Linked DNA regions of Homo sapiens. The protein of the gene in region 2 purifies or fractionates together with the protein of the main gene of each other region. This does not show direct contact. Each region holds a gene or a part of one and is shown on either strand. Other genes may lie near its edges.

Region 1 (3,824 bases), on a different chromosome or scaffold from region 2:
GCCTGGGCCACAGAGTGAGACTCTGTGTCAAAAAAGAAAAAGAAAAGGAAAGGAAAAGAAAAATCTAAAGAACATTGTTACGGCAGTCTAATAAAAAGTCTGCCACCTAGGTTTCATAATAAACTGTTCATTCCCCATTTATTCATTGGGTGATACTCTGGCAAAGTCATGCACATGGTGTGGTAGAACATACTGGGGAGAGATTGTGAGAAGACAAATCCCGTGTTTTCATCAACCTGTTTTGTAATCCATGACAGTCAGTTAACTTTGTTTCTTCATCTATAAAATGAAGTGATTGGACTATGGTTCACTTGAAACTGGGAGCCATTCTGTTCTATCACTATAAGCTCTATACTGAATGTCTTCTGCGAGTTTGTTATTCTGTTTTCGTCTGTGTTAATTTGAAATTCTTTTCTAGAGGTAATGTAAACAGTTGGGAATAAGAAGAAAAACATTCAACTTTTCTTTTTCCTCTGCACTAAAGAGAACATGCTTGTGTAAGACTTATGGACTGAATAAATGATCAAGGAATCAGCTGAAACCATTGCACAGCCATAAGAATAATTTTTGAGACTTAATGGAGGATCTCTGAAATTCTGTGGGTTGGAAACCGCATGCATAAGGCTTTCCTTTATACCAGGTATTCTTAACTTGGTGTCCATAGACAGAATCCAAGGGGTTCAAAAACTTCCGTAGAAAAAAGATACAAACCTCTTAATTTTTTTCACATCAAGTATGAATGTAGGCAAAAACCAGGGTAGTTATGCTGTTATGTCACCAATAAAAATCAGTTCATCGTAGTGCAGTTTTCACCGCTATCTCCAAATAATTATATTCTTCACTATTTTGAAGTTATGGTAGTTTATTAGCCTTGGCCCTAGCTCCTGTTATTTAATGCAAAAGAAGTACACCTGTAACTATACACACACACGTAAAGCTCCTGCTATATAACAAAATTGCCTTTAGTATTTTTGATAACTGCATTTAAACATAATTTATTTCCTGGGTAATCCTATCTATTTCATTGTATGCATTTTAAAACACTGCTTGAGAAATAGGCCTCACCAGATTGCCAAAGGGGTCTTCGGCACAATAAAAGGCTAAGATTACCCTGGCATGAGCATAGACATAAAGATCATTAGAGGACCACTATGCAGCTTGCAGCAACTGACGGCAGGCACTGTGAATCTGGAAAACTGAAAATTATGGCTCTATAATTGAGTGGACAGCCGTAAGGAGCAATCAGAAACTTCAGTGTAAGAGGAAAAAAAAAGATGTTTTTCAGAAATCCCGGAAGCTAAGGATCAGCAGAGGATAGGAGGGGCCCATTTCAGTCTCGTGCTTTGTTACTGGCTACAAAGGCGACGGAATGACCAACAACCCACTTCCTGTTGACTGAAACTATTGCCTGTCTCCACCCTATTGCTCCCCCTCACCACCTCACCCCCATCAAAGGGGCATAACAACACAGGGGAACCCAAAGTCTACACCCCTTAACCTACGACCTTCCAAAATCATGTCCGGAGCTTTCGCCGACACCGCAGACTCCTTAGCGGCTAAGCGTGAGTGCGCCGGCTCCCTTGCCTCGGGTCAGCAGCACCCCGGGGCTGGGGCTCCTGCAGCAGCCGCACCAAAAAGTTTCATCCACAACCTTAAGTTTGGAAACTATCGTTTGCCAAGCGAAGGGTTCCCATTATTCCTGGCTGGCGGTCCATCTCCTTGCCCGTCTCTCGGGGAGTGATTCGGTCCGGGACACCAGGACTCTGCTTGGAGGCCTGCTGTTGCCTAAAAACCCCAAGCGCGGGCCTCTTCAAGGCCCCAGGTTCGAGATCCGAACCCTCCAGTAATGTCCTCAGACTCCTCCCCCTTCACTGCAGCCCGGGCAATACTCGGGCCTAGCTCCTGAGAGCGGCGCCGTTGGCTTACGTAGCAGCACGTGATTGGCCACCGCTCCCTGGCAGGCCGGGATTGGTGGAAGACGGGCCGACCCCGCCCCTCGCCCCCGCCTCCGGCCCGAGGCCGCACGGGTGTCCTCGCGCTGCTAGTCCGCGCGCAGCCTGGCAGTTTGCCGCTTCCTCGTCCTCCATCCTGCGTCCATGGCCACCGCTGCGACTGAGGAGCCCTTCCCTTTTCACGGTCTCCTGCCGAAGAAGGAGACCGGAGCCGCCTCCTTCCTCTGCCGCTACCCGGAGTATGATGGGCGGGGGGTGCTCATCGCAGTCCTGGACACGGGGGTCGACCCGGGGGCTCCGGGCATGCAGGTGAGGCGGCCCCCGAGGGCCCGGGCGCGGGGGCGCGGGCGGCCGGGGACGCGGGTGGGGACACAGTCTCGGAGCCCGGCAGGCCAAAGCCCCGCTCTGCGGCCGAGTCCGGGCCGGGGTGGGCAGCACCGGGGTGGGCAGAGGTCAGAGCCAGGCGCGGGAGGGACGGGCGCCCGCCAAGGGGACTCAACGGCGCACAGTGCCAGGGTCGCTGGGCGGGCGAGGGCCCGGACCCCAGGTTGGGCCGTGGTCCCCCCAGCTCAACAAAAGCAGCGTGCCCGGCGCGGCTGCCTGGGGAAGCCTGGGTCCCCCTTTGGCCCCAGGGACTCCCCTTCCTTCTCGCTTCGGCGCTGCCAGGCCGGACCCCCCAGGCTCCTTCCCTCCACGCCGCCTTCCTCTGCCTACCCCTCGTGCCTCGGACACCGGTCCCAGCCTGACGTTTTTAAAGAGAATTTTACAGCTTTTATCATTGGGGTGGGGTGGAGACACCAGATAGGCAACTGACATGTGAGAACTTAATGTTTAGGGATCGGGAGATTTGGTTTGGGGAAGAATAGTTTGTCTTTAAGCACGAAAGCTGGGTTTCCAGAAGATAACCCAGTCCTCTTCCGGAATTGTTTCCTGTGGTAGTTTTGTGTATTCTATTTTTAAACGGTCTTCTGCAGCGTGTTTGCTTAGGGTCATTGAATCTTGTGGCTTAGTCTTCGTTTACATAAGGAGAATTCAGTTAGGTTTGGTTTTGGCGAGCTTCTCAGACCTTATGAAAATATGCGACTTTTTTTTTTTTAAACCTGAAAACATACGACGGTTTTTAAAAATTACTTAGTTTTTTGCCTTAGGCAACTTTAAAATCTGTAGATTCAAGGTATCATACCAGAAGGTAGTTTTTTTGAAAGTATGTTGTCTCTCGTTAAAAGCATTCTGTTTAAAGTCTTTAAAGTTTAACTTTTGTACTTTTAACCCTTTACTGAAATCCAGTAATAAAATTTCACCGTTATTCAAGATCCATCTCCCAGCATCCCTGACTAATCCTACTGTATGCTGATCTCTCGTTGATCAGCCCCTGGCTATCTTATCCTCCTTTCTACACTAAACACTCATCCTCCTCCCCACAATGTCCCTTCCCTTCTGGATCCTTTATCGTGCTTTCTGATTATTGAGGTAGCATTTTGGAAGTAACGAGGGGGAGTCTGGCCGAATCTGCTTAGAAACCCCTGGGAATCTTGATTCCTGGTGTGTGTTCTTCAGCACCACTCTGGAGTACAGCACATCTTTTGTGAATCAGAAGAGGATCAGGTACTGAATTCCCTCCCGGTAACTGGAGTTATATAGTTGTCGTTGTATTAATAACTTAAAGACTTAGAACAATGACAGCTATCAACTCATTTGGGGCTTTATTACAAAGTAATAATGCTTTTCATTCAGCTGTGGAGTGTGTTTACTTTTTATAGGATGAGTGGGAGGAAAACAGCTGGGATAAGTGGTTCACCGGTTCTTTTGTCAGGATAATAAGAGGGTCAGAAAAGTTTGGAGAAGTGCTGCTTGGTAGAATTTGTTGGTAGA
Region 2 (3,600 bases):
AATGCTGAGTCCGAAGTTTACTATCTATGGAAGATGTACTTACTGAAATCACCAACTGATCACTGTAGTCAATGATGACACATCCATTCGTTCTTCCCCTACCTGAGTGATAGAACACAGCCTTCCAACAGATAAGGCATCTGCTAAATCAGAGAATTCAGTATCTTCTGGCCTTTAGTGGTTTTTTGGAATGACTTTCAGGAGGCCTTATATGAGGAGAGAAGAGCTAGGAACTATGGGGTGAGACTCCAGATACCTTTCCCTGACTTCTACAAAGCAATTCTTCTACTCTGATTGTTTTATAAATTGAGCTTGAGGTTTCATTTGGAAAAGGTTCTGAAGCTTAAACAGTTTGCAAATCCCAGCTCTAGAGCAACTAATAAATTCTTGGTATGACTTGTCTCTAAACAACTTACTGAATCAACCTCTTTGAATAATTTAATTTCTAACATGTTTATGGTACATCATCAACTCAGTAGGATAATAGGGGAGTAAATAGAGAAATAATTCTGAAAACAGCAGAACAAAGACAACTTGCATAACTCTATCTCAGTTCCTACTGATTTTCTTCCCCAGAAAAGCTAGTCCAAGGACACAAGCAAATAAATAAACATTATTCCAATTAAAATGAGATGGCGTAGGAAGAAGAGTAAAGAAAAATGAATGGCTGAACAAAAGATGAAAGAGTAAGACTAGCACTAGGAGAAAGTATGCTTTTCCTTTAGGACCAGGTCCATGGGATTAACAAAAGCAGAAATGTTACCAGAGTCAGTTGAAGTTAAGAGAACAAGAGGCAGACTGATTTGTATATAACAAGATTCATTTGAAATTTGAAATGATGAAAGAAGAATGGAAAAGTATAGGGATGTAGTATGAAGACCACTTCATGATTTTCAGAGCCTGTGAGAGAAAAAGAAACTAGATAAGATGAAGGGTCAATCTCTGATTACAAACCCACCTGTGAGGAGAATAAGCTTTGTCATGGTTGCAGTCAGCACCAGTCCCGCAGAGCTTTTTATATGTTCTGATTCTGTGGTTATCACAAAGGCTTCTAAATAGAGAACAATTTGACCCAGATGTGTATGTAGTTAATCAGTAAATCAACGGACCTTCTCTTCTACAAACACCCTCCCAAGACCTTCAACCTACACCCTCCCACCACCAGCATCACCACCTTCTCTGCCCAACAAGGACAGAACAATGTCATGGCTCCTAACAGGGTGGTGGAGACCATCACCATGGAAAACACCAGTTTAATAGCTTTTTTGGCAGTTCCAAGGGCTGATAAGCAACTGTTTAGATACTGTGGTCAGATTTTCTATTGTGGACATTTTGTGTCTGGCATCAAAGCAAGTCTTTATGGAAAAATAAATAAAAAGAAACTTTGGAAGTTATTAGCTGTTCTTAAACCTTTTTTTCCTCATGGAATTATTCATATGTAATTTGTACAATCAGTGCCTAAGAAATCTTCCTTCTTTAGGTGCTACTCTCTCAATATTCTACTCACACATGTTCTTTGGAATGGCTTCAAGTCATGACTAAATGATAATTTTATCTAAGAATGTTTGGATCTCAAAATGTCCCCTATAAAGGTCACCAAGAACTCTCTAGTGTTCTGTAGTTTCAAATTACATCCCCTAAAAACTGCGTTGCTAATGGATAGAAATAATATAGATGATATTGAAATGAGTCTCTTCATAGAAATATTTGCAACTTGACCGTTTCTGGAACTTTGTATTTAAATTAACTCCAATCTACCCCTTCCAAACATAATTCACTACCATTGTTCTATAATACATTTCTCTTTTGGCCAAAGGACTATTCTTTGCCCTCAAACATGCCTTGCATGTCTTTGCTCAAGGTATCCCTCCACTCCTTGCCTGTAATGTCTTGCCTGCAGTGTCTCCTTATCCTCACTGCCTATCCCAATCTTAGCAGTTCTTCAAAGTCCAACTCAGATCTTTTCTATCTTAATGCTCTCTCCTTCTTTTGATTTACTTTATGTACTCTAGCACATATTTTCTGTATTGCTTATATGATGCTGTCTTGTGACAATACCAGGAATGCAGTTGGCGGGAATATGGGTGATCATTATGGGATTTCAGCACCTTAGCAGAGTTCTTGTGAGTCCAGACAGGTTTATCCATTTATCACATTTGGAAACTAAATTGTATCCATTCTTCCTGTGATTGGTAGGTTAAGTGTTTTGTTCTACTCTCAGAACCAGAGAAAGTCTAATAGAAGTGCTGCCAGGAAAAATTTTTATTTTATTTTAGTTCCAGGGTGCATGTGCAAGGTGTGCAGGTTTGTTACATAGGTAAACATGTGCCATGGTGGTTTGCTGTCCCTATTAACCCATCACCTAAATATTAAGCCCAGCATGCGTTAGCTATTTTTCCTGATGCTTTCCCTCGTGCCACCCCCACTGACAGGCCCTAGTGTGTGTTGTTCAGGGAACATTTCAATTGTGAAAATAATCATATCAACAAACACTACAAGTGCCTACTATGTGCCAGAGACTGTATTTGGTGCTTATATCACTTAGGCTTTAATTTTGTAAGCAATCAAAACCAACTCTAAGAAGCACAAATCAATATATTTGAAAGACATGAAGAAACTCACAGAATCAAAAAGAATACAGAACCTGCCTCTAATACAATAGAAACCAAGTCTTTCTATGGGGAGGGGTGTGGGAGGAAGGCTTAGGAGAAATAAACTCCAATTTTATTTTCCATCTATGAATGACAAGAATTAAATCCTGGGGAAAAAGCATATTGTTGTATGACACCAGACCCTCAATTAGGGAAAGGGCAGGGCACTTGGATTTACATTTTCACAAGGACTGGTCACAAAATGAAATTCTAAAAGAATAAAAAGTAAAGCTGAGTGACTAAAAAAAATGACTATCATCAGAGGGCTTGACTTTATTGTTTCTTTTACCCTATAAAGAGGATTATTACTATCACACCAATTTTGCTGATGAGAAAATTAATCAGCTATTAAACACCAGATCCAGATCCCTGTGTTAAGTACGCAAGCTTTTGGCCCAAGTTAAACTGAGTGAGGCATTTTCCCAAGGTAGTCAAGAGAATACAGTTGAGCCAAAGAGAATGTCAAATCAAAGTCAAGGATTTGCAAAAACAAACAGCAAAGCCAGTAGCTCCAGGTTTATCGTATTCAGGACTATAGGGTGTAGCTACCATTTATAGCTAGTGAGGTATTTTCTATTGAATTTGGCATCCCCAGTTCTAAATAAATGACATGACCTACAGATTAAACATTTCTTTTTAATAGCTCCTTAAGAGCCCCAGCAAACTTGCATCCCATCTGAGCACTTGGTTATTGGAAAGAATTACTGCGTTTATGAGTCATAGAATGAATAGTTTTAAACTGTGACCATGTGTATCCTTTTACATTATTGTTTTCAATAACCTTGTATTATTTTTAGTTTCTTTAATTGTAAAATCTACCATACACATGAGTTTAGGTATACATTTTAAGAAAAATATGGCCAAGCCTGGTGGCTCACACCTGTAATCCCAGCACTTTGGGAGGCCAAGGCGGGTGGATCACCTGAGGTCAGGAGTTTGAGACCAGCTG

What was found. Proteins that work in one complex are often made in the same cells at the same time.
Region 1: the proteins of CHIA (region 2) and TPP2 purify together in Homo sapiens (affinity purification with mass spectrometry; 3 studies listed by BioGRID and IntAct, with this or other methods). This does not show direct contact.

Annotation. Positions count from the first base shown.
Region 1 is NC_000013.11:102,594,943-102,598,766, forward strand, and holds the start of TPP2 (tripeptidyl-peptidase 2), read left to right. Parts: upstream 1-2,043; 5' UTR 2,044-2,096; coding exon 2,097-2,261; intron 2,262-3,824. UniProt on the Homo sapiens protein: Cytosolic tripeptidyl-peptidase that releases N-terminal tripeptides from polypeptides and is a component of the proteolytic cascade acting downstream of the 26S proteasome in the ubiquitin-proteasome pathway.
Region 2 is NC_000001.11:111,307,851-111,311,450, reverse strand, and holds part of CHIA (acidic mammalian chitinase isoform c precursor), read right to left. Parts: intron 1,052-3,600; 5' UTR 984-1,051; coding exon 959-983; intron 1-958.